3 separate regions of the Homo sapiens genome follow, and all the other regions are linked to region 2. The links come from fine-mapping of genetic effects on gene expression. A gene starts in region 2. Each other region holds a variant in brackets. All regions are shown on one strand. Distances are between the middles of the regions.

Region 1 (7,861 bases), 470 kb after region 2:
CGTGGAGATGGACCATTATGAAATGGGAACTTTTCTGCATATGTGTTATACTTCTATTTTAATAAATAACATTAAAAGCAAAAAAGAGGGGAAAGTCAAACAGAGGAGTTGAATGTTACAGAATTTTAGGATGGTGACCGAGACTAGGTTGGATATTGTGAATAACAATAGTGACAATAACTACCATGTATATGGCTAATAATTATTTCAGTGAACACTTATCCTGTGCCAAATATTGCTATAAGTACTTTACATATATTGACAAATTTAATTCTCCCCAACCCACTGAAGTATGCACTATTATAGTCTCCATTCTACAAATGAGGAAACTGATAAACAGAGTGGTTAAGTAACTTGCCCAAGGAGGTTATAGACTACTATTTCAAGAAGTTTATAGTGAATGAAAAAAGAGAACAGTAAATCATGCAGAAAACAGGGAGGTTTGTTTTTTGTTCTGTTGTATAGGCAGGGGTTGAGCGCATTTATGTTTCAGGAGAGAAGCCAGGGAAAGGGGAGTGAAAGTGCTTGATCCCTCCCTCAGGCGACCAGAAAGGATGGATCAAGAACCCAAGTATGTACAGCTTTGCCCAAGGGAATGGCCTCCCCTAAGATCTGAAAAGCCAAGAGTTCTGTGCACTAGAGAGCAGAGAGAACACACCTTAGGTAAAGTAGATTGTTGAGGACCTTGCTGAACGATGAGGAGGCCAGGAGTGGGTAAAGAAAGCTGGAGAAAATATGCAGTGAGGATTCCTCAATGTCTATCACAGTTAAAGCAATTGCACATGTCTGAATCCCACCCCAGGCCTACTGAATGGCATTCTCTGGAGGTGGATTCCCCGTGACAGCATTTTTAACCAGCTCTAAAGGTGCTTCCGATGTCCCTTAAGTTTAAGAGACATAGTGGCATGTGAGATCCACAGACAGAGGATGAAGTGAAGAAGGATCCACCCTCTAAGACGGAGCATGGAGGGACAGTTTCCCCAGAAACTGGGACTTTTTAAATAAGTTCTTCAAATGATTCTAATGTAGGTAGTCTGTGGGCCACACTGAGGAAGTTTTGCCTGTAGGGTGACAGTGGCTAAGCATGTAGACTCTGGAGCCAGATTCTGAATACTGTACTACTATTACCTGTGCAACCTTTGGCAAGTGAGTTAACCTCTCTGTGCCTCAATTTTCTCATCTGAAAAATGGGGCTAATAATAGATAGTACCCATTTCATAAGGTTGTTGTATTAAATAAGTTGATATATGTAAAGTGCTTGAAACATAATAAACATCCAATACTCAGTAAATATTAGCTATCAGTGTTGCTTTGTTTTTATCATTCACCATAGTTGGGGGGTGCAGGACCACTGAAAGTATGACCTGAAAAGTAGGTTAGGCAATGGAATGTTCAAGTAGACTCATGAAAATCACCCGAAAAGTCTTGTGACCAGCTCAGGAGGAGAAAGGGGGACTAAAACCTAATAATGAGGCAAAGTGAGAGTTGTACTCCTTTATGACTCGTCTGACTAGGGTCCCTCGTTGGTGAAGACAGTCATTGACAGGGGAAGTGTCACGCAGTATAGAGCTACATCTGGCAAAGTGAGAGTGGCAGGGAGATGGACATAAAACTGCTGCTAGGCCCTCCCTAGATGGAGAGCATACTGGTTATTGAAAGAGGCTAATGTATTCAAGAAAGACTTGATAAAAAGAGTAGCTTGGGAACCAGTACTGCAAGGATGGCCAACTGCTTAAAATCTGCCTTGTTCTGTCCCTGGTGGGAAACACCAGGCTCTAAAAGTGCTCTCAAATCAACTAAAGTCCTTTATTACCATCTGACTAAAGGCCTTAGATTCTAAGCTAAGCCTCCTTGGCAAGCATTTGGAGACCTGTCACCAGCCACAGGGCCAGGCTGCTGCTTAGCCTCTTGGTGTGTCTTTTGCTCCTTTGCAACTTAATCCTGTTTTGGATGTCAGTTACGCGGGACACAGAGAGGCTAGAGAGAAAGCTGGAACCCAGGTCCCAAGAGAAACAGTTGAAGGAGCTGGGGCTGCTTAGCTTGAAGAAGAGAAGACTTGAGTGTTTTGAATGAACTTCTTCAAGTTGGTTTTTGTTTGTTTGTTTTGTTTTTTGTTGTTGTTGTTGTTGTTGTTTTTGAGATGGATTCTTGCTCTGTCTCCCAGGCTGGAGTGCAGTGGCACGATCTCGGCTCACTGCAACCTCCACCTCCTGGGTACAAGCGATTCTCTGCCTCAGCCTCCCAAATAGCTGGGATTACAGGCACCCGCTACCATGCCCAGCTGATTTTTGTATTTTTAGTAGAGAAGGGGTTTCACCATGTTGGCCAGGCTGGTCTTGAACTCCTGACCTCGTGATCCACCTGCCTCGGCCTCCCAAAGTGCTGGGATTACAGGTGTGAGCCACCGCGCCCGGCCCAAGTTTTTTTAAAATCAATTTAGCTGGTAGCAACTGTCCCTCGCAGCCACCAGAGGCCCTGTCAAAAGAACATCAGCAGGGGACCAACTTGCATGGGTCCCTTTTGGCAGGCAGCCTCAGGGTCAGGGGTCAGACTGCGGGCACTGCTTCAATGACACAACTACAATGTGAAAGTCTAAGAGTTCTTATTAGCACTTACCCACCCTGGGGTGTACACGGCATGCCCTGGAGGCCGCATGCACACAGGCACACACACAAGGTCAGGGAGCACGTGAGAGAGAAGAGAGCATGTCAACTAGCAGCATATATTGGAGAATAGGGTGTGTGGGGGTCGCTTTTAATTTCACAGGCAAATGCTTGAATGGTCCTGCACCAGAGATGTCTCTAAGTTCTTATCTCCAAACACCTACTGGAGCCATTTGGGTGTGGTGTCGAACTGGAAACGGTACTGGAAACGGTGTCAAGGGTGATTGAATGAGACCTGCCTCTGGCACGAGAAAGCTAAACCTGCATTCAAAATGAATGCCGAGGCAACATAAAATTATAAGCATTCACTACATCAACGCAGTGTGGGTTCTGTACCTCTGAAGGGCTATTATAAAGCTGCAAGAGCAGGTGGGATGTGAGGGGTGGTGCCCAAGGGGCAGAACTAGGATTCATAAGTGGGTAGAAATTTCAGGGAGGCATCTTTCAGCTCAATACAAGGAATTAACTTTCTAAGAGAACTGATCGACCATGAATCAGAATGGATACCTTGTGAGGTACTGGGTAATGAGTTCCCTGTCACTGGAGGAGTGCAAGCTCAGGTTGTATGACAAGTTTACAGGAGAGCACATTTAAGCATCCAGTTAAACTTTACAGCTAAAACGCTTGTTCTCTGTTTGTGTTCAGCAGCCTGGTTTCATTTCATAACCCTTGGCTTCTTAGCCCTGGGCTTTAACAGGCTGATTTAACATCTGGCAACCAGGTCACATCTAAATATAACTAGGAAATGGATGTTGGGTAGCACTTTGATTCTCTCATAAGCCCCAATTAGGTCCATGAGCGTCTCTCCTTTCTAGCTACCGTCACCTCTCCTCTCTCAGACTGCCTACAAAGTAGGATACATTTCTCTGGTTCCCTGATTTCTTGCTGTCTTTGAAACAAACCCATAGGCCCTTTAGGATTTAGGATAGGAGGTGACAAAACAGCAAACATGGGCAAGTAATCCAGAGGCCCAGGAACTTTGTCCAAGTTTCCAGAGCAGATGTCCATTGTCTACTAAACAAGTGCTTCTCAAACTTTCATGTGCATTGAATCACCCCGGGATCTTGTTACAATGAAGATTCTGATTTAGGATCCTGAGAGTCTGCATTTCTAACAAACGCCTGATGATGCTAATGCTGCTGGTCCATGAATCTAAGACATTATGTAAATGGCAGGTAACTCACATGCCTACAGGATTAGCATAAATAGTTGAGCGAAGCCCAGGGGTTCTGAGAAGGTAGCAAATGGATAAACCAGTTGCTCTTCAAATATCCCTGGACTCCCTGGGCCCTAGATCTCGTTACCTACCCCATCCCCCTGCCCAGGTGAAGGCCTCCTTGGCATTTTCTTCAGATTTCTTCCTTCAAAACAAAGGGCTTGGAATCCACAAAGGGCGCCGCCCACCACCAGGTACAACGTTTAAAAAAGTTTTTAATTTAAAAAATTTTATTTTTGGCTAGGCGCAGTGGCTCATGCCTGTAATCCCAGCACTTTGGGAGGCTGAGGCAGGCGGATCATGAGGCTAGGAGTTCGAGACTAGCCTGGCCTACATGGTGAAACCCCATCTCTACTAAAAATACAAAAAAATTAGCTGGGTGTGGTGGCAGGCACCTGTAATCCCAGCTACTCGGGAGGCTGAGGCAGGAGAATCGCTTGAACCCAGGAAGCGGTTGCAGTGAGCTGAGATCACGCCAATGCACTCCAGCCTGGGTGACAGAGCAAGACTCTGTCTTGCGGGGGGAATGGGGGGGTGCTCTTTTTTTTCATTCAATACAATGCTCAATGGATGTCTCCATCTTGAGCTCTCCCACCTCACACACACGCTATTTTTTTTTTTTTGAGACAGAGTCTCACTCTGTGACCCAGGCTGGAGTGCAGTGGCATGATCACAGCTCACTGCAGCCTCGA[T/C]CTCCCCAGGCTCAGGTGATCTTCCCACCTCAGCCTCCCAATTAGCTGGGACTACAGGTGCAAGCCACCACGCCTGGGTAATTTTTGTATTTTTAGTAGAGACGGGATTTCGCCATGTTGCCCAGGCTGGTCTCAAACTCCTGGGCTCAAGTGATCCACCTGCCTCGGCCACTCAAAGTGCTGGGATTACAGGCGTGAGCTACTGCACCCAGCCTGACTTTTGTTTTGTTTTGTTTTTTTAATACAGACGGGGTCTCATGTTGCCCAGGCTGCTCCTGTGCTCAAGCAATCCTCCCGCCTCGGCCTCCCAAAGTGCTGAGATTACAGGTGTGAACCACTGCACCTGGCCACACACACACTTTAAACAGAAGGTTTGCTGCAGTTGTTTTTTGCCAGTAGACTCCAGGACAAACCCCAAGTTGGAGGGCAAAGACTTTCACCTCTGTAAAAGAATTGTTCCTTCCATAAGAGGTTCATCCAGTAAGAAAAATGGTAGTAGAGAAAGAGACTTAAGCCTGGGTTTATAATCATTGAAGAAGACCCTACCCCACCACCTTGGTCCCTCAGGGAAGTAGCAGTGGAGAGCAAAACCCAGCTCATTCTACAGAAGCCCTCTTTCATAATGGAAGCACAAATACCTCCCCAAAAGGAGCTGTGCTAACTTTCAAGAGTGGTGGGCATCCTGTCATGAAACAGCCTGGGCACACAGCTATATGAGTCAGATATGGTAAACACCAAGCATCCCAAGGAGGGAAAGGTTCTCAGAACTAGCTGCCTCCCCAAGGGAAGGAAGAGTTGTGTTCAAGGCTCCAGGACATCATCCCTCTCACACCACACTATGCTCTGGGCGCATGGAGGGGTGGTGGACCTCATACCTCAGGGGCATGTTCTGTTGGAAGTGGCTCAAACGAGACACTTACAAACCTGTCTCAGCAGCCTGCCTGTCAAATTATACCTCTGTGCTGGGTCAAACTTTTGGCCAATTAGAACTTAGAAGAGCAGACCAGTGCGGTGGCTCACGCCTGTAATCACACCACTTTGGCAGGCTGAGGTGGGAGGATTGCTGGAGCCCAGGAGTTCGAGACCAGCCTGGGCAACATGGTGAAACCCCTTCTCTACAAAAAAATAGAAAAATTAGCAGGGCATGATGGCGTGCGTCTATAATCTCAGCTACTCAGGAGGATGAGTTGAGGCCACATGGAGTGGCTCACACCTGTAATCCCAGCACTTTGGGAGGATGAGGCAGGCAGATCACTTGAAGTCACAAGTTCAGGACCAGCCTGGCCAACACGGTGAAACCCCTTCTTTACTAAAAATACAAAAATTAGCCGGGTGTGGTGGCAGACGCCTGTAATCCCAGCTACTCGGAAGGCTGAGCCATGAGAATCGCTTGAACCCGGGAGGTGGAAGTTGCAGTGAGCTAAGATCATGCTACTGCTCTCCAGCCTGGGTGACAGAGCGAGACTCCATCTCAAAAAAAAAAAAAAGAGGCTGAGGTGGGAGGATCACTTGAGCCCAAAAGGTCGAGGCTGCAGTGGACTGTGATCACACCACTGCACTCCAGCCTGGGTGACAGAGTGAGACCCTGACTCAAAAAGAAAAACAAAAAAGAATTTAGAGGAGCAAAGGCCACTATCAGCTGGCCCTTCACAGGTGTGGTGAGAATGGTGGTGGTGGCCCCAGTTGGGCACAAAGGTAAGCCCTGGGATGGAGAACTGACAGGGCCTAATAGTGTCTGCTCCCAGACAGACAGACTGCTACTTGGTAGGAATGCCACAGTTGTTGCAGAGAAGCTGTGTTAAACTGGGAAAAGCTTGCTTTGAGAATCGATCCAATTAGACTGCAATTCTAGCTCCCCCACTTTCTAGCACTGAGACCTTGGAGCAAGTTACTTCACTGCTCTGTGCCTCCGTTTCCCCCTTGCAAAAACAAAGCAAGACCTACCTCTTCAGTGTATTGTGAGGATTTAACGAGGCATTTGTGAAAGCACTTGACACAGAGCATGTGCTCTAAAAATGTTTCTTTCCTTCCTTTGGCCTGGCAGCATATGTTTACTAAGGAAAGCTGAGACATAGAGAGGCCAGCCCTATCCCTTGGACTGATGCCAAATTGGAGGCCTCTACATGCCATGCCCAGGAAACAAATATAAGACCAGAAGAAGATTAGATAAAGCTGCTGTCTGCCTGCCTGCCAATGTGACAGCTCTTTTGGGTTCTGACAAAGGAGAGCAAGCCAGTCTGAACAGAGTACCAGCTCTGGGAGTTTCGGATCCCAGAAAAAGGTCCTAAGTCCTGGGTGACAAAGACAAGGTCTCTAACTGCCCCAGTCTGGCATACATAGTCGGAGGCTGGCAGATGCATAGAAGAGGCCTAGACGGGGAAATCAAGATGGCTCCAACTCTGACTGCCACGAAAAATGTGGTTTCTGGAGTCCCGGGTCAAGAAGCTTCCCTCTTTCTGAGCGCCAGAGAAGAGTTCCAGAATGAACAGGAAGTGCAAAGAGAGAGCCAGCCGAGAGGCAACCCTAAAAGAACTATCCATCAGAGGCTCAGATCACAACTGCTCTTCTATGCATTGGCTTAAAAATCAAATTCCATTCTGGACAAATTTCCTTATTGCACGCAAGCTGCTCTAATTTCAAGAATGTCAAATACGCAGCCAAATGCAATTACATTTTAAGCACAGCACTCACTTGAAATATAGCACAAATTTCTAAACCAATTTTAATCAAATTACAGAGAGGGCAGACATGCTCAGCAACCTGAAATTCCACCTGATCCAGAGAGCCTTTCCTGATTAGTTAGAAGAGTGGCCAGTTCACTGGCTCTCCCCTGCCTGTTGTGTTCACTGTCTGCTCTCAGGTATGTCTTTATCCTTATTCTTGTACACTGTGTAGATGTGTTTGTTGATTATGCATTTCTGCCCTGGTTACCTGTTTGCTTGGTTAATCACATGTCCTTTATGCCTGAGCAGTCTTTTGGCTATTTCCTTCTGGTGCCTCTCTGTGGGCATGGGCCTGGCCTTGGAATCCTCCCATGCAGGGCTTCTGCCCAGGTGCTTAATAAGGGTTCTTTGAGAATGAAAGCTCAAAAAGTCTTAGGCCAAACCAGGTGGCTGCTGGGACATTATGTGACAGCAAGTCTAAGCCCTCCCCCAGAATTTAGGCAATAACTCATTTATTATCTGGGCAATGGGTCTAAGTGCCTTAGTGTCACTCTGGTCTAGAAGACTGGCCTACCCCTCACAGCCAAGCATCACCAGAGATGCCTGCATGTATATTCCTGCCACAGG
Region 2 (7,861 bases):
TGTCAATTATTTATTCTGTGGATTAACCAGAGCTAAGAGGTATTTAAAACCAGTCCCTGCCTAACTCCTTAGCATATTCCACTCAATTGGTGGGTATTCAGGGGTTGACAACATATTTTGGATCTTTATTATTTGGGGGTTGTCAACTAATATTGTTTTATTTTATTTTATTTTATTTTATTTTATTTTATTTTATTTTATTTTATTTTATTTTATTTTATTTTATTTTATTTTATTTTTTGAGATAGAGTTTCGCTTTTGTCACCCATGCTGGAGTGCAATGGCACAATCTCAGCTCACTGCAACCTCCGCCTCTCTGGTTCAAGCGATTTTCCTGCCTCAGCCTCCTGAGTAGTTGGGATTACAGGTGCCCGCCACCATATCCAACTAATTTTTGTATTTTTAGTAGAGATGGGTTTTCACCATGTTGGCCAGGCTGATCTGGAACTCCTGACCTCAGGTGATCTGCCCATCTCAGCCTCCCAAAGTGTTGAGATTACAGGCATGAGCCACCACGCCCAGCTATATTATTTTTTAGGGCCAGACAAACAAAAGTAGGAAGGGAAACTTGATGAGACAGACAGGTCAGTGAAATATTACAAACCAACTATATTTTAATTTCTGGATTATTTATTTTTCTGGATTACTCACAACTTCCATAGCAGCACAAGTAAGAGGATAATTTCACAATTTTCATTTGGTTCTATTTCCTTTGTAACTTTCCATAATGTATCATGTAGCTCTTCACCCAGGAAATGTTTCATAAGTGGTACGGACAGGCATCCCTTGGACAAGTTCCCTTTTTGGAATTCTAGGTAGTCTAAGTTACCGTGAGTGACTTCATGTCTTATTCATTTGACAAACAATATTGGTGCCTACTATGTGGTAGGTGCCATGCTAGGTATTAGAAATATCAAAATAAAACAATATTGGTGCCTACTATGTGGTAGGTGCTATGCTAGAGATTAGAAATAGCAAAATAGAAAGGACACAATTCTTACCATCAAGGAGCTCATAGTTTAGTGGTAAGAAATCCATGTGAAACATTCAAAATGCAGTGTGGTAAGTGATATCATCAAAGTATGCTCAGGGTGCAATGAAAGCACAAAGGAAGTCTGGTTGGAGTGAGTTGTGGGGCCATACCAGACAGAACATGTGAATTGATTCTTGAAGAATTTATCAGGTTTCTAAGGTAGGGGCAATCTTGACAAAGAAACTAGTTTGTTCAAAGGCACGGTGGTGTGAGAAGTGTCAGCAAATTTAGTAGTGTGCAAGCATGACTTCCTTGTAAAATGGTGGAAGATAATGTTGGAGAGACAGACTAGAGGGCATGTTAAGGAGCTTATATCTTGTCTCCCGTAGTACCTGGGATCAAAGAGGTAAGGTGAATGAGTGACAAGGACAGTAATGAAGGATAGAAGAAAGAGGTGGTGATGGCTGTGGAACTTGATTGTTCATGCTTATTTCAAGGAGACAGTTCTAGCTGAGTGTAGCCACATGGGAATGTGAATCCAGAGTTATAGGGTCTTCTGGTTTTTTAACAGAAAAGCAGGAAATCTGGATTTTTTAAAAATGTGAAATCTCCAGAGTTCCAATAGCTGACAATTGCTTTTTTTTTTTTTTAATTCAAAGGTTTAGTTGATACTGCACCGAACACAACACATCTGTTTGCTGGATGTGGCCTGCAGGCTGTCATTGAGACCTGTGCTTTAGGGGACAGGATACGTATGGAAGCATAGAAGCTAACTGAAACAAAACTTTAAAACACTTAAAAAATAACCACATACATTCCTCTCTGGATTGCCCCATTCCAACATTTCTACTGCATATGATGACACATGTTCTTTCTCTGGGGAAGCAAAGAGAGGTCCCAGGTCAAATGCAACCCTCAGGGCTTCTGAGGGCAATGGTGTAATCCAGAGTCTCAGTCAAGCCTGGTAGAACATGGTAAGGTGAGACCAGTGTGGCCCCTGAGCATCACCATCACCACCAGGAGATGGCTGTCATTTGTTTCCTTTTCATTTTAGAGGAAGAAAGGGCAGCCTGTTTAAACTGTGTATGCAAGAAAGTCAACATGGCCAGTGACAACACAGACAAAACACAGTGTAAAGGCTGTTAAAGTTCAAACTCCTCATTTTACTGCCGGAGAAACTAAGGCCCTGAAAAAGCACAGTGACTTGCTCAGAGGGACCCAGCAACCTAGTGGCAGGATGAAGTCTCCTGACTCCTGGTCTAGCATTCTTTCCAATAATCCCGGGCTGTGATAATTAAAGTAAATCAGCCTGGCAGTTTTCCTAGCATCTAGAATTCCTGGACTGGACAAGCAGGACTTGAGAGCAGCTGTTAAACACCTTTTTTCCCCTTAGCTCTAGGATGATGATATTCTTTGTGAACTTTATATTTCATGGGTAGGGGTTAAAGAGACGACACAAAGATGTTTTTGAAGCACTGAGACCATTCACAAAGTGTACAGAGAAAAGTTGTCTGTGGCTAATATATTTAAGGCTTATGACCTCTGTGCTCTCTGGACTGACCTGCCAGCAGATGCTTTTGGTTTTGTGTTTTATTTCTCTTATTTTGTCTTCTTTTCTATTTCTATCTATGTTTTTCTTCTCTTCCACCAGCCTAGGTCTTAGGCCTACACATAAGTGCCCCCGGCATTGCTGAGCCTCCATGATGACACTCAAGATGCCTGCTGCAAGTCAATAAAATTGTTAATTATTCATTACTCAATAACACGGAATGAGAGTGCGTAGTGACTATGAAGCATACATGGTTCCCCTGCTATGGTCATTTCGCTTTCTATAATCTCAGACTAGTAACTCTTGTCAATTGTGACTCTTGATTTAATCCTTTCCATCCTTCATTTCAGGGTCTATTGTTCTGCCTTTTGCCACTTTTTTTTTTTTATCTGAACCCGTTTCTGATTGGTGCAGCTGTTGAAGATGCTGCAGTTGCAGCAGTGTACATCTGGAACATTTGGCTGACTTGTTGAACTTCCCCCAGGGAGTACTCCAGGAGAAGGATGGGAGGGGTGGAGAGGCCAGAACAGTTGCCTGTAAATAAAGATGCCAGTAGTGTCTGGCCATTCTGTGGACCACACTTGTACAAATCCACTTCATTCTGGCCCTCGGTTTCCCTGTCTACTCACTGAAGACATACGTTCTCCAATCAAAACTGCTGCAGTGGAAGAAATCTATTCTGGCTGTGGATGCTCTCATACAGCATTTTTTGCATTGTACAGGGATCGATAGATATTTGTTGAATTAATTAATATATCAAGAAATCCTAGGAGACTGTTTTACCCTTCAAGGGACAACATCATTTCAGTTCCGCTTGGCATGGGGCGGCTTCTCTGTTACTTAGATTGAGCCTTCAGAGTCACTCCAGGAGTGAGGCTGCTTGAGTCCCACCCATTCCCATAGTTCCCAGGCTCCTGGGTCTCCTTTTCTTCGGGCGAGCCATTGAATTGCAAACACAGCAGGCATGGTTTCATTCCAAACCCAGAGCTGTTTTAATTAGTTTAACGTCTGTTAAACGCTTTGAAGATTGGAAGCAACAGATAAGTACTGGATGATGTTATTAACAACTGCAGTTAATTGCAAACATTTCTATTAATGCTAGTTTCTGCCTCCTTTTCTTTGCTCTACTTTCTTTCCAAGGTTCCCAAATTCTTAGCCTCCCCCTCCTTTCCTCCCCGTACTGGCGCTATAGGGTTAAACTGGGGCGGAGCCCAGGGATGAACGACAGCGCCAGTCACCAACTGGTACGGGGCAAGCGGGAAGAGCTGGGTGGGGCGGCCAGGCAGAGGCGAACCCTCACGCCCCCAGGCCCCGCCCCGCGGCTGGAGGCCCGGCTGGAACGGCACGGGGCGGGGCGCCAAGGCTTGGCGGCCCCGTGGTTGGGCGTCCCGGCAGCCGCTTGAGGGATGGGGCGGGGTCGGCCGGGACCTCCTCCTTCATTCCCTCGGCGGGCCGAGCCTCCCCTCTCTCCCGCCCCTCCTCCTCCCTTTCCCACCCCTCGGAGTAGAGCTGCACATGCGGCTGCTCCCTGCTCCGTCCCGCCCAGCCACTGTCGCGCAGGAACGGGTCCCTGCAGCCCCCAGCCGATGGCAGGACAGTAGCCGCCTGTCAGAGGTCGTGAACGGCTGAGGCAGACGCAGCGGCTCCCGGGCCTCAAGAGAGTGGGTGTCTCCGGAGGCCATGGGCTACCCGGAGGTGGAGCGCAGGGAACTCCTGCCTGCAGCAGCGCCGCGGGAGCGAGGGAGCCAGGGCTGCGGGTGTGGCGGGGCCCCTGCCCGGGCGGGCGAAGGGAACAGCTGCCTGCTCTTCCTGGGTTTCTTTGGCCTCTCGCTGGCCCTCCACCTGCTGACGTTGTGCTGCTACCTAGAGTTGCGCTCGGAGTTGCGGCGGGAACGTGGAGCCGAGTCCCGCCTTGGCGGCTCGGGCACCCCTGGCACCTCTGGCACCCTAAGCAGCCTCGGTGGCCTCGACCCTGACAGCCCCATCACCAGTCACCTTGGGCAGCCGTCACCTAAGCAGCAGCCATTGGAACCGGGAGAAGCCGCACTCCACTCTGACTCCCAGGACGGGCACCAGGTGAGTCACCTAGTAGGGGCGGCGGCGGCCCCCTCCCCTCGCGGGTAGGGCGAGGGCCCTCCGCCACAGGGGCCTGGGAGCACTCAGCAACCTCGAGCCAATTTAGAGGGCAGGACCAGGGAGGGACCAGGCGAGCAAGGGAGAAGTTGCCCAGGGCAGGTTGTCTTCGGTCCCTGGCCCAGCTAATCCAGACTCCCTGGGGACCCCTTGACTTGGAAAGTCTCGCGCGCGCCCGCGGCCCCTGGCTGCGGGCTGCCTCGAGAAAAGTTGGCGACGCTCCCGTCGAGGAGGTGCCTGCGCTGCCCCCCGGCCGACTAACGGCTTGGCCCTTCTGCTCGTGATGAGGTTCTCTGCCCGCGGTGCTTGTTTTTTCGTGTCTAGAGCTGATGCCAGAACCAGCAGGCTCCCCTTTGGAGTTGGAGCTGTAAACAGCTGTAATAACTGTTCCACGCCCGCCCGTTGAAACAACTTTTAACCGCATTTTCAGCGCGGGTCCTTGTGCGCTGACCAGAACGTGGGCTTGTTCACACTTACCTGCAATTTGAGACTGATTGTCCTCGGCGTTCTAGTGAGGATCAGCGCCCCTGAGGAATTCTGGTAGAAATATGCCGTCTTGCTAGACAACTTCTGAACAGCAATTTTAAAAATCTATGGAAATAAAACTCACCCTTTGCATGCCGGTTCTGATTCTTAAGCGGGGTAGGTGTGCGGTGGGAAGGGTGGGTGGGAAGCGCTTTTACTACTGTTAGCTTGAGAACGGGAATCTGCCAATGGAATAATTACTCAGGACTCGTCCCCCAAGAGCAGTTTTGTTTGTTTTTGCAATCTTTATGGTGTTTGTGCCCTAATAAGCAAACTATTAGCTTTGGTGTTTGTTTTCTATTCTATTCTTTCTAGCTTTTTATTCAAGTAAATTTCGTTCACTTAACGTAAATACTGTCTTGGTTGCCATATGTGAAACTTAGGAGAAGCATCCAAGGATCCTTTCGAGGTGGCTAAAGAATAATAATAAAATTGTACCTCTTAGGGAAGAGAGCAAGTTGTACAAATAAGTTCCTTGAGGTGAGGGACCCAAGCCTTCTATATTTACTGCCACATCCAGAGTCATTGTCACAACTCTGTAAACATTATTTGTGCCACTTTGACCTCCCATCTAAAGTGGTACGCTTGATAGAGACATCATATTCATGATAATAGTGTAATGTTAGGACTGATACTTAAAAAAAAAAAAAAAGATGTGCATTGTAAAGTTGCCCTGAGCCTTAAAATGTCTTACTAGCACACTCCAATTTATATAACAGCTTATCAAAGAAGAGAATCAGCAGACATGCTTCTCATACTTGAAACTTTAAACATTGTAGCTAAACGATAATTAACTAGGATTCTGACTCCTTTATTTATCTACTGCCACTCCCCCCACACCCCAATGCCCAGCAGAAGTATTTAGCAGCTGAACATTGATATTCTGTGAAAAGATGAAAGAATTAAACTTCTTTAATCAAATGTTGGCCAATACTTTTTGGCATTCAGGATGGACAGAGCCATTTTTATAGACTGAGGATTAGCAGAACAGCTGTACTGTAAGGTTTCTGTGATGGCATGAAACTCTTACAGGTGTATAATGGCATTTAGTTACCTACCCTTTGTGTGGCACTAAAATAGTTCTGTCTAGATTTAAACACAGCTTCCTATCTTCTGTCTTTTATTCTTTCTGTTTTAATATTTTTGAGCAATAGAAGCAAGGATACTAGCTCTTTACATTTGTTGACATCAATTGGAATCAGTTTCCTAGAGTTATGAAGGGCTTATATGAGTCCATTTCGTTTGATTCCCTTGGGAAACATAGGCCCTAAAGGGAAAGTGACTTGCCCAAGGTCACATAACTAGAGTCAAAACTGGGATGATAGTTGCTCTAACTCCTAGTTGGGTGCCCATTCCCCCAACTACCTCCTGGGACCTTTTGCGAGGGAGCAAGATGGAGCTCCACATTAGAACTTTTGCAAAGTAGAGGGCTCAGCTCTGCATCATTTTGTTCTACTCTGCCTGTATTTTGACCACAGTAAGTTTAACCGTGTGTTCCTTATTCTTCCTGAACTTCACTTTCAGATTTGGAGTATACTTTGAAGGAATTTTAGCCCAAATTCAACTTGTTTATTTTAAGTTGTTCAACTTAAGTTTATCTTATCTTGTATATTAGTTTTAGTATACAAAAATAACTTTTTAAAAAAGTTGATTGGGTATTAAATTAATACTGCTACAAGCTTGGTTAAAATTTCTAGTGCCCTGGTGCACCCTCTGCTGGCTTTACAGTGACATTTAATTTTCAGTATCTGCTGACACTCAGAATTCTACATTGTGCTGACAGATTCTGATTCAGTAAATAAGGAAGTAAACAGCCTTGTGGGATTTGGCCACGTAGGTCATATTTTTATATTTTAGTTTTTAAACACAAACAACTGCTGTTACAGCAAATCTTGGATGGAGAGGAAGAAAGATAAAAATATACACCCTTCAACGGGCAGTACATTCAGGTTTCTTACCAGTTTATCTGTAAGGAGTGAAGGCAAGCTGATGAGAGTAAACTGCAGGAAGCTCTCATGAGACCAAGTGGGCAGAACAGTCAGAGACACTTCATGCAGGTAGGCAAAAGTAAACCTATCCATACTTATGAGATGATGGGCTCTGGGCTCTCAGTTATGACTCAAGAAAGGGACCTGGAAATCACTGTAGATGTATGTATATCATCTGTCAATTTAAAAACTTTTTAAGCAGGGCACACAAGGAAGTTAGGGCAGGTAGGATACAGAGCAGAGAGATCAGCACAGTTCTCCATGTGAAATGTTAGAAAAGTCTCCCTGGTGGGGACACACTTGCTGATGATGAAGTGAGAGAGTCACATCAGACCTTCCGTAATCAATCATCTCCTTCAGCTGGAGCAACCAAGTAGCTGAGATTTGTCTGGATAGTTGGTGGAGATTATCTCAAGAGCAAGGGATATCTCATTTGTGTCTGAATTAGGACAATATACAGTAATATGATCGTCAGAGTAAAAAACTAAAAATCACTGTTGATCATTCTGTGGAGATGTTGCGCCGGTTGTGATTGTGGTCCTCAAAGGCCAAGAATGTAGTGGGTATCATCAGGAAGGGTGTCAAAAACAACAAAACAAACCACTTACAAAACACTTATTTTTTCCATGTACAAGATCAAAAGCAGATTGGCTTCTACAATCAGACAGGAAATTCTGGTGGCTGCTCCTCAAG
Region 3 (7,861 bases), 400 kb after region 2:
CTCTAATGCCCTCAGGCTCAGGAGAGAGCAAGGTGATTAAGGACTATCATGGACCTCCAGCACAGTGCAGATGCCTTACAGAAAAGCAGCCAGACTGTTTTCCATGCAGGTCTCTGACCTTGTTACTCCTCACTGGGCAACGCCTCTCCACCTGGGCCCCCAGCACAACCACCCTGCCCCTGCCTGAACACTTGTCAGTGGTGGCTCTGCATTTCTCTGGGAAAAGAAATCCCAGAGACAACCTACAGCCCCTCTCCCATTGCAGCTGCAGCGGTATCGCCCTTACTGCCCATGGGCTGGGGAAGGAACAAAGGGCCTGGTTGTGTCACTGTACCTCCAGCACACTGCAGCAACCACAGGGAGAAGAGCACAGTAGCTCTTCCCTGTGAGTCCTTACCCCCTACACTTCACCAGATAGGGCCCCCAACTTGGGATCTCAGAGTAGCTGCCCCAACCCTGACTGAGCATTCCCGCTGGTAGTGGCTGTGTTCCCCTGAGGTGGAACTTATGAGGAAACTGACAGCCCCTCTGCCACTGCCACTGCAGTGGTTCTGCTCTTGCTGCCTTCAGACTGAGGAAGAAACAAAGAGCCTAAGGGCTTTACTTATACTTCCAGCACACCACAGTTGCCATATGGAAAGGAGCCCAGTCTCTCTTCCCAGTGAGCCTCTGACCCCCTGCTCTTCACCAAGCAGGGCCCCAGCTCAGGCCCATAGTGCAGCTGCCCCACCCTCTGGCTGAACATTCCCATTGGCAGCAGCTCTGCATTTCTCTGGGGTGGAGCTCCCAGAGACGACTGAAAGCCCTTCTGCCACTGCCACTGCATTGATACTGCCCTTGCTGCTCTCTGACTGGAAAAGGAACTAAGATCCTGAGTGCTTTACTCACACCTCCAGCATACCACAGCTGCCCTAAGGAGAAGAGGCCAGTCTGTCTTCCCCTACAATACCCCTGCCTCCCTACTCATTACCAGGCAGGGTGCCCTGGCTTGGGCCCACGGCACAGCTGCCCTACCCCAGGCTGATTGCTCCAATCGGTAGTGGCTCTATATTTATCTGGGGTGGAGCTCCAAGATACAAGTGGCAGGCCCTCTGCCATTGCCACTGCCAAGGTCCTGGCCCTTTCAGTCCCCAAGCTGGGGAGGGAACATAATGCCTGAGCACAGCCCAGGAGTGCCAAGTGGAGAGCTGAGAGCTGAGATCTACAGCCAGCACTCATGTAGGAAGGGAGCCCACACCCTCAGATCACTGAGAGGGAGCACAGCTGAAGACACAAGGAAATACAGAGGAACCACATGGCTGGGCAAGAGCCTGCCTACTGGCCATTATGCCTAAGTGCTATCTACTGGATCACAGCTCAAATTTCAACAACAAAAATACTTTGCTAGCGTACCCCCCGATAAAATCAAGGACAAGAGTTCAGCTACAAATGAAGACCTAGCGCAAAGCCTCAGCCCTCTGATACATCCAAAAACAAAGTCAACTGACCATAACTGAAATTATACCACAGTTAAAGGAACATCAGCCCACGCAGATGAGAAAGAACCAGCATGAGAACTCTGGCAATTCAAAAAGCCAGAGTTCTCCTTACATCCAAATGAATGTACCGGTATCCAGCAAGAGTTCTTAGCCAGGCTGAAATGGCTGGAATGATAGTCATAAAATTCAGAATAAGATTCAGGAGAAAGTCAAAACCCAATCCAAGGAATCTAAGGACTACAATAAAATGATACAGGAGCTGAAAGATGAAATAGACATTTTAAGAAAGAACCAAACTGATGTGATAGAACTGCAAAATACACTATAAAAATCTCATAATGCAATTGCAAGTATTACCAGCAGAATAGACTAAGCTAAGGAAGAACCTCAGATCTCACAGACTGGTTCTCCAAACTAAATCAGTCAGACAAAAATAAAGAAAAAAAGAATTTTAAAAGAACGAGCAAAACCTCTGAGAAATAGGGAATTATGTAAAGACATCAAATCTAACACTCATTGGCATCTCTTGAAAGAGAGGGAGGGAATACGAGCAACTTGGAAAACCTACTTGAGGATATTATCCATGAAAATTTCCCCAAACTCGCTAGAGAGGCCAACATTCAAAGCCAGGAAATGCAGAAAACCCCTATGAGATACTGTACAAGACAACCATCCCCAAGACACATAGTCATCAGATTCTCCAAGGTCAACATGAAAGAACAAGTATTAAAGGCATCTAGAGAGAAGGGGCAGGCTACCTACAAAGGTAACCCCATCAGGCTAACAGTGGACCTTTCAGCAGAAACCCTACAAGCCAAAAGAGATTGGGAGCCTATATTCAGCATTCTTAAAGAAAAGAAACTCCGGCCAGGCACAGTGGCTCACGTCTGTAATCTCAGCGCTTTGGGAGGCCAACGCGGGTGGATCACCTGAGGTCAGGAGTTTGAGACCACCCTGGCCAACATGGCAAAACTCTGTCTCTACTAAAAATACAAAAATTAGTCGGGCATGGTGGTGCATGCCTGTAATCCCAGCTACTCGGGAGGCTGAGGCAGGAGAATCACTTGAACCCAGGAGGCGGAGGTTGCAGTGAGCCGAGATCACGCCTTTGCACTCCAGCCTGGGCAACAGAGTGAGACTCCATCTAAACAACAATAAAAAAAAGAAACTCCAACCAAGAATTTCATGTCCAGCCAAACTAAGCTTCATAAGCAGAGGAGAAATAAGATCCTTTTCAGGCAAGCAAATGCTAAGGAAATTCATTACCACCAGACCTTACAAGAGGTCCTTAAGGGAGTGGTAAATATGGAAATGAAAGACCATTACTGGCTACCACAAAAGCACAATTAGGTACATAGACCATTGACACTATAAAGCAACTATACAATCAAGTCTACATAATAACCAGCTAACAACACAATGACAAGATCAAATTTGCACATATCAATATTACCCTTGAATGTAAATGGGACAAATGCACCAATTAAAAGTCACATAGTGGCAAGTTGGATAAAGAAGCAAGACCCAACTTCTTTCTTCAAGAGACCCATCTCACATACAGTGACACTCATAGGCCCAAAGTAAAGGGATGGAGAAAATCTGCCAAGCAAATGGAGAAAGAAAAAAAAAAACAAAAAAAAACAGGGATTGCTATTTTAACTTCAGACAAAACAGCCTTTAAACCAACAACAATTTTAAAAGACAAAGAAGGGCATTACATAATGGTAAATGGTTCAATTCAACAAGAAGACCTAGCTATCCTAAATATATATGTACCCAACACAGGAGTACCCACATTTATAAAACAAGCTCTGAGAGACCTACAGAGAGACTTAGATAACCGTACAGTAATAGTGGGAGACTTCAACACCCCACTGACAGTATTAGAAAGATCATTGAGGCAGAAAACTAATATAGATATTTCAGACCTGAACTTGATACTTGACCAAATGAGCCTAACAGACATCTACAGAACTCTCTACCAATTAAAAAAAAACCCAGAATATACATTCTTCTTATCTGCACATAGCATATGCTCTAAAATTGACCACACAATTGGCCATAAAACAATTCTCAGCAAATTAAAAAAGAAAAACAGAAATCATACCAACCACACTGTCAAACCACAGCACAATAAAAATAGAAATCAATACCAAGAAGATCACTCAAAACCATACAAATAACCTGCTCCTGAATGACTTCTGGGAAAATAATGAAATTAAGCAGAAACCAAGAAATTCTTTGAAACTAATGAAAACAAAGATACAACTTACCAGAATCTCTCGGGCACTGCTAAAGCAGTGCTAAGTACTAGATGCCCACATCAAAAAGTTAGAAAGATCTCAGATTAACAACCTAACATCACACTTTGAGGAACTAGAAAAACAAGAGCAAACCAACCCCATACTAGC[G/A]GAAGACAAGAAATAACCAAAATCAAAGCTGAACTGAATGTATTTGAGATGTGAAAAAACATACAAAAGATCAATGAAATCATACTTGGTTTTTTGAAAGAATAAATAAGATAGACCACTAGCTAGAGTAATAAAGAAAAAAAGAGAGAAGATCAAAATAAACACAGTCAGAAATGACAAAAGGGGCATTACCATCAATACAACAGAAATGCAAAAAAAAAAATCAGAGACTATCAAAAACACCTCTATGCACACAAACTAGAAAACCTAGAAGAAACTGATAAATTCCTGGAAACATACAACCTCCTGAGACTGAGCCAGGAAGAAATTGAATCCCTGAACAGACCAATAATGAGCTCCAAAATTGACTCAGTAATAAATAGCCTGCTAAGAAACTAAAAAGCACAGGACCAGGTGGATTCACAGCCAAATTCTACCAGATGTACATAGAAGAGTTGGTACCATTCCTACTGAACCTATTCCAAAAAGTTGAGGAGGAGGGGCTTCCCCCTAACTCACTCTGAGGCCAGCATCATCCTGCTACCAAAACTTGGCAGAGACAAAAAAAACTTCAGGCCAATATCCTTGTTGAACATAAAAGCAAAAATCCTCAACACAATACTAGCAAACTGAATCTAGCAGCACCTCAAAAAAGCTAAGCCACCACAATCAAGTAGGCTTTATCCCTGGAATGCAAGGTTTGTTCAATGTACGTAAATCAATAAAAATTATTCACCACCTAAACAAAACTAAAAACAACAACCACATAATCATCTCAATAGATGCAGAAAAGGCTTTCAAGAAAATACAGCACCACTTCATGTTAAAAATCCTCAACAAACTAGGCATTGAAGGAACGTACTTTAAAATAATAAGAGCCATTTATGACAAACCCACAGCCAACATCATACTGAATGGGCAAAAGCTGGAAGCATTCTTATTGAGAACCAGAACAAGACAAGGATGCCCTCTCTCACCACTCCCATTCAACACAGTATTGGAACTACTAGCCACAGCAATCGAGCAAGAGAAAGAAATAAAAGGCATCCAAATAGGAAGAGAAGAAGTCAAACTATCCCTCTTTGCAGACAATATGATTCTATACCTAGAAAACCCCCATAGTCTCTGCCCAAAAGCTCCTTGATCTGATAAACAACTCCAGCAAGTTTCAGGATATAAAATCAATGTACAAAAATTAGTAGCATTCCTATACACCAGCAACATCCAAGCTGAGAGCCAAAACAAGAATGCAGTCCCATTCACAACAGCCCAAAAAGAATAAAATACCTAGGAATACAGCTAAACAAGGGGTGAAAGACCTCTACACTGAGAATTACAAAGCACTGCTCACAGAAATCAGAGATGACACAAACAAATGGAAAAAACATTCCATGTTTATGCGTCAGAAGAATCAATATTGTCAAAATGGTCATAATACCCAAAGAAATTTACAGATTCAATGCTATTGTTATCAAACTACCAATGACATTCTTCACAAAACTAGAAAAAACTATTTTAAAATTCATATGGAACCAAAAAAGAGCCTGAATAGCCAAGGCAATCCAAAGCAAGTAGAACAAAGCTGGAGGCATCATATTACCTGACTTCAAACTATATGTTAAGGCTGCAATACCCAAAACAGTATGGTACAGATCGAACAATGGAATAGAATAGGTAGCCCAGAAATAATGTCACACACCTATGACCATCTGATCTTTGACAAAATTAACAAAAACAAACGATCTAGAAAGGACTTACTATTCAATAAATGGTGCTGGGATAGCTGGCTAGCCATAAGCAGAGATAATTGAAACTGGGCCCCTTCCTTACACCATATACAAAAATTAACTCAAGGTGGATTAAATCCTTAAATTTAAAACCCAAAACTATAAAAACCCTTGAGGAAAATCTAGGAAATACCATTCTAGACATAGACCCTGGAAAAAAATTTATGACAGAGACATGAAAAGCAATTGCAACAAAAACAAAAATTGACAAATGGGACCTAATTAAACTAAAGAGCTCCTGCATAGCAAAACAGCAAAAGAAGCTATCAACAGAGTAAACAGACAACCCAAAGAATGGAGAAAATATTTGCAAACAATGTATCTGACAAAGATATATCCAGTATCTATAAGAAACTTAAACAAATATACAAGCAAAAAAACAAGCAACCCCATTAAAGAGTGGGCAAAGGACATAAACAGACACTTTTCAAAAGAAGACATATACATGAGCAGTAAGCACATGAAAAAATGCTCAGCATCACTGATCATTAGAGAAATATAAATCAAAACTAAATGAGATACCATCTCACACCAGTCAGAATGGCTATTACTAAAAAAATCAAAAAATAAGAGATGCTGGTGAAATTGTGGAGAAAAAGGAACACTTATATACTTCTGGTGGGAGTGTAAATTAGTCCAGCCATTGTGGAAAGCAGTGCGGTGATTCCTCAAAGAACTTAAAGCAGAATTAGCATGCAACCCAGCAATCTCATTATTGGGTATATACACAAAAGAATATAAATTGTTCTACCATAAAGACACATGCACATGTATGTTCATGGCAGCACTCTTCACAATAGCAAAGATGTGGAATCAGCCTAGATGACCATCAACGGTAGACTGGATAAAGAAAATGTACGTACATGTCATGGAATACTATGCAGCACAGTAGACTGGATAAAGAAAATGTACATACATGTCATGGAATAATATGCAGCCATAAAAAAGAATGAGATCATGTTCTTTGCAGCAACATGGATGGACCTGGAGGCTGTAATCCCAAGCAAACTAATGCAGGGACAGAAAACCAAATGCTACATCTTCTCACTTATAAGTGGGAGCTACACATTGAATACATATGGACACAAAGAGGGGAACAATAGACACCAGGGCCTTCTTGCGAGTGGAGAGTGGGAGGAGGGTGAAGATCAAAAAACTACTTATTGGGTACTACGTTTATTACCTGGGTGATGAAATAATATATACACCAAACCCCTGTGACACACAGTTTATCTATAGGACCAACCTGCACATGTACCCCAGAAACTAAAATAAAAGTTTAAGAAATGACTTTGAGCCCTGTTTCTGTTGGTACTCTTCATGTCATGGGCATTTTAGGGAAAAAATATAAAAATTTTAGTTAACTCTTTGTCTTACACTGTATGCCAAAATCTATACCAGATTAATTGTAGATTTAAAAATAAAAATGAAACCATAAAAGAACTAGAAAATATATAAAGAGTTACCTATAATATCACATTAGGGAAGGCCTAAGTAAGCATGACACTGAAGGCAGTAACCATATAGGAAAAGATTATTAGGTTTAACTACATGTAAGGAAAGCTTTTCACACCCTTTGACCCAACAGTGTCATTTCTAATGACACATCCTAAAAAACCTTTGGACAAGTGTATAAAAATGTACATATGTGGGGCCGGGTGCAGTGGCTCACGCCTGTAATCCCAGCACTTTGGGAGGCCGAGGCAGGCGGATCACGAGGTCAGGAGATAGAGACCATCCTGGCTAACACAGTGAAACCCCATCTCTACTAAAAAAATACAAAAAATTAGCCGGGCGTGGTGGCGGGTGCCTGTAGTCCCAGCTACTCGGGAGGCTGAGACAGGAGAATGGCGTGAACCCGGGAGGCAGAGTTTGCAGTGAGCCAAGATCGCACCACTACACTCCAGCCTGCGCGACAGAGCGAGACTCCGTCTCAAAAAAAAAAAAAAAGTACATCATTGTTTATAAATGTACATAACATATAAATTGTTTATAAATGTACATATAAATTGTTTATAAAATGTACATATAAATTGCTTATAAACATACATTGTTTATAAATGTACATCATTGTTTATAATAGTGAAAAACTGGACCCAATCTAAATATTTATCAAAGATGATTAAACGCTGATGCATCCATATTAAAAATTACAATGTAAAAATGTAGTTATTGACATAAAAAA

What was found.
Region 1: its variant is fine-mapped to the expression of EDA in whole blood (TOPMed, PIP above 0.99).
Region 3: its variant is fine-mapped to the expression of EDA in whole blood (TOPMed, PIP 0.99).

Annotation. Positions count from the first base shown.
Region 1 is chrX:70,081,394-70,089,254 of GRCh38, forward strand. No RefSeq gene overlaps it. Among named protein-coding and RNA genes, the nearest start is that of OTUD6A, 23 kb to the left of the region's middle. RefSeq lists a silencer at 4,949-5,183. The variant T/C (reference allele first, on the strand shown) is at 4,572.
Region 2 is chrX:69,612,107-69,619,967 of GRCh38, forward strand. EDA (ectodysplasin A) reads left to right here and starts at 4,007. Exons shown (of 8, transcript NM_001399.5): 1 at 4,007-4,598. The coding sequence starts at 4,203. RefSeq lists a silencer at 3,835-3,954.
Region 3 is chrX:70,012,948-70,020,808 of GRCh38, forward strand. All of the region lies in intron 2 of EDA (ectodysplasin A), which reads left to right. Among named protein-coding and RNA genes, the nearest start is that of MIR676, 6.0 kb to the right of the region's middle. The variant G/A (reference allele first, on the strand shown) is at 3,890.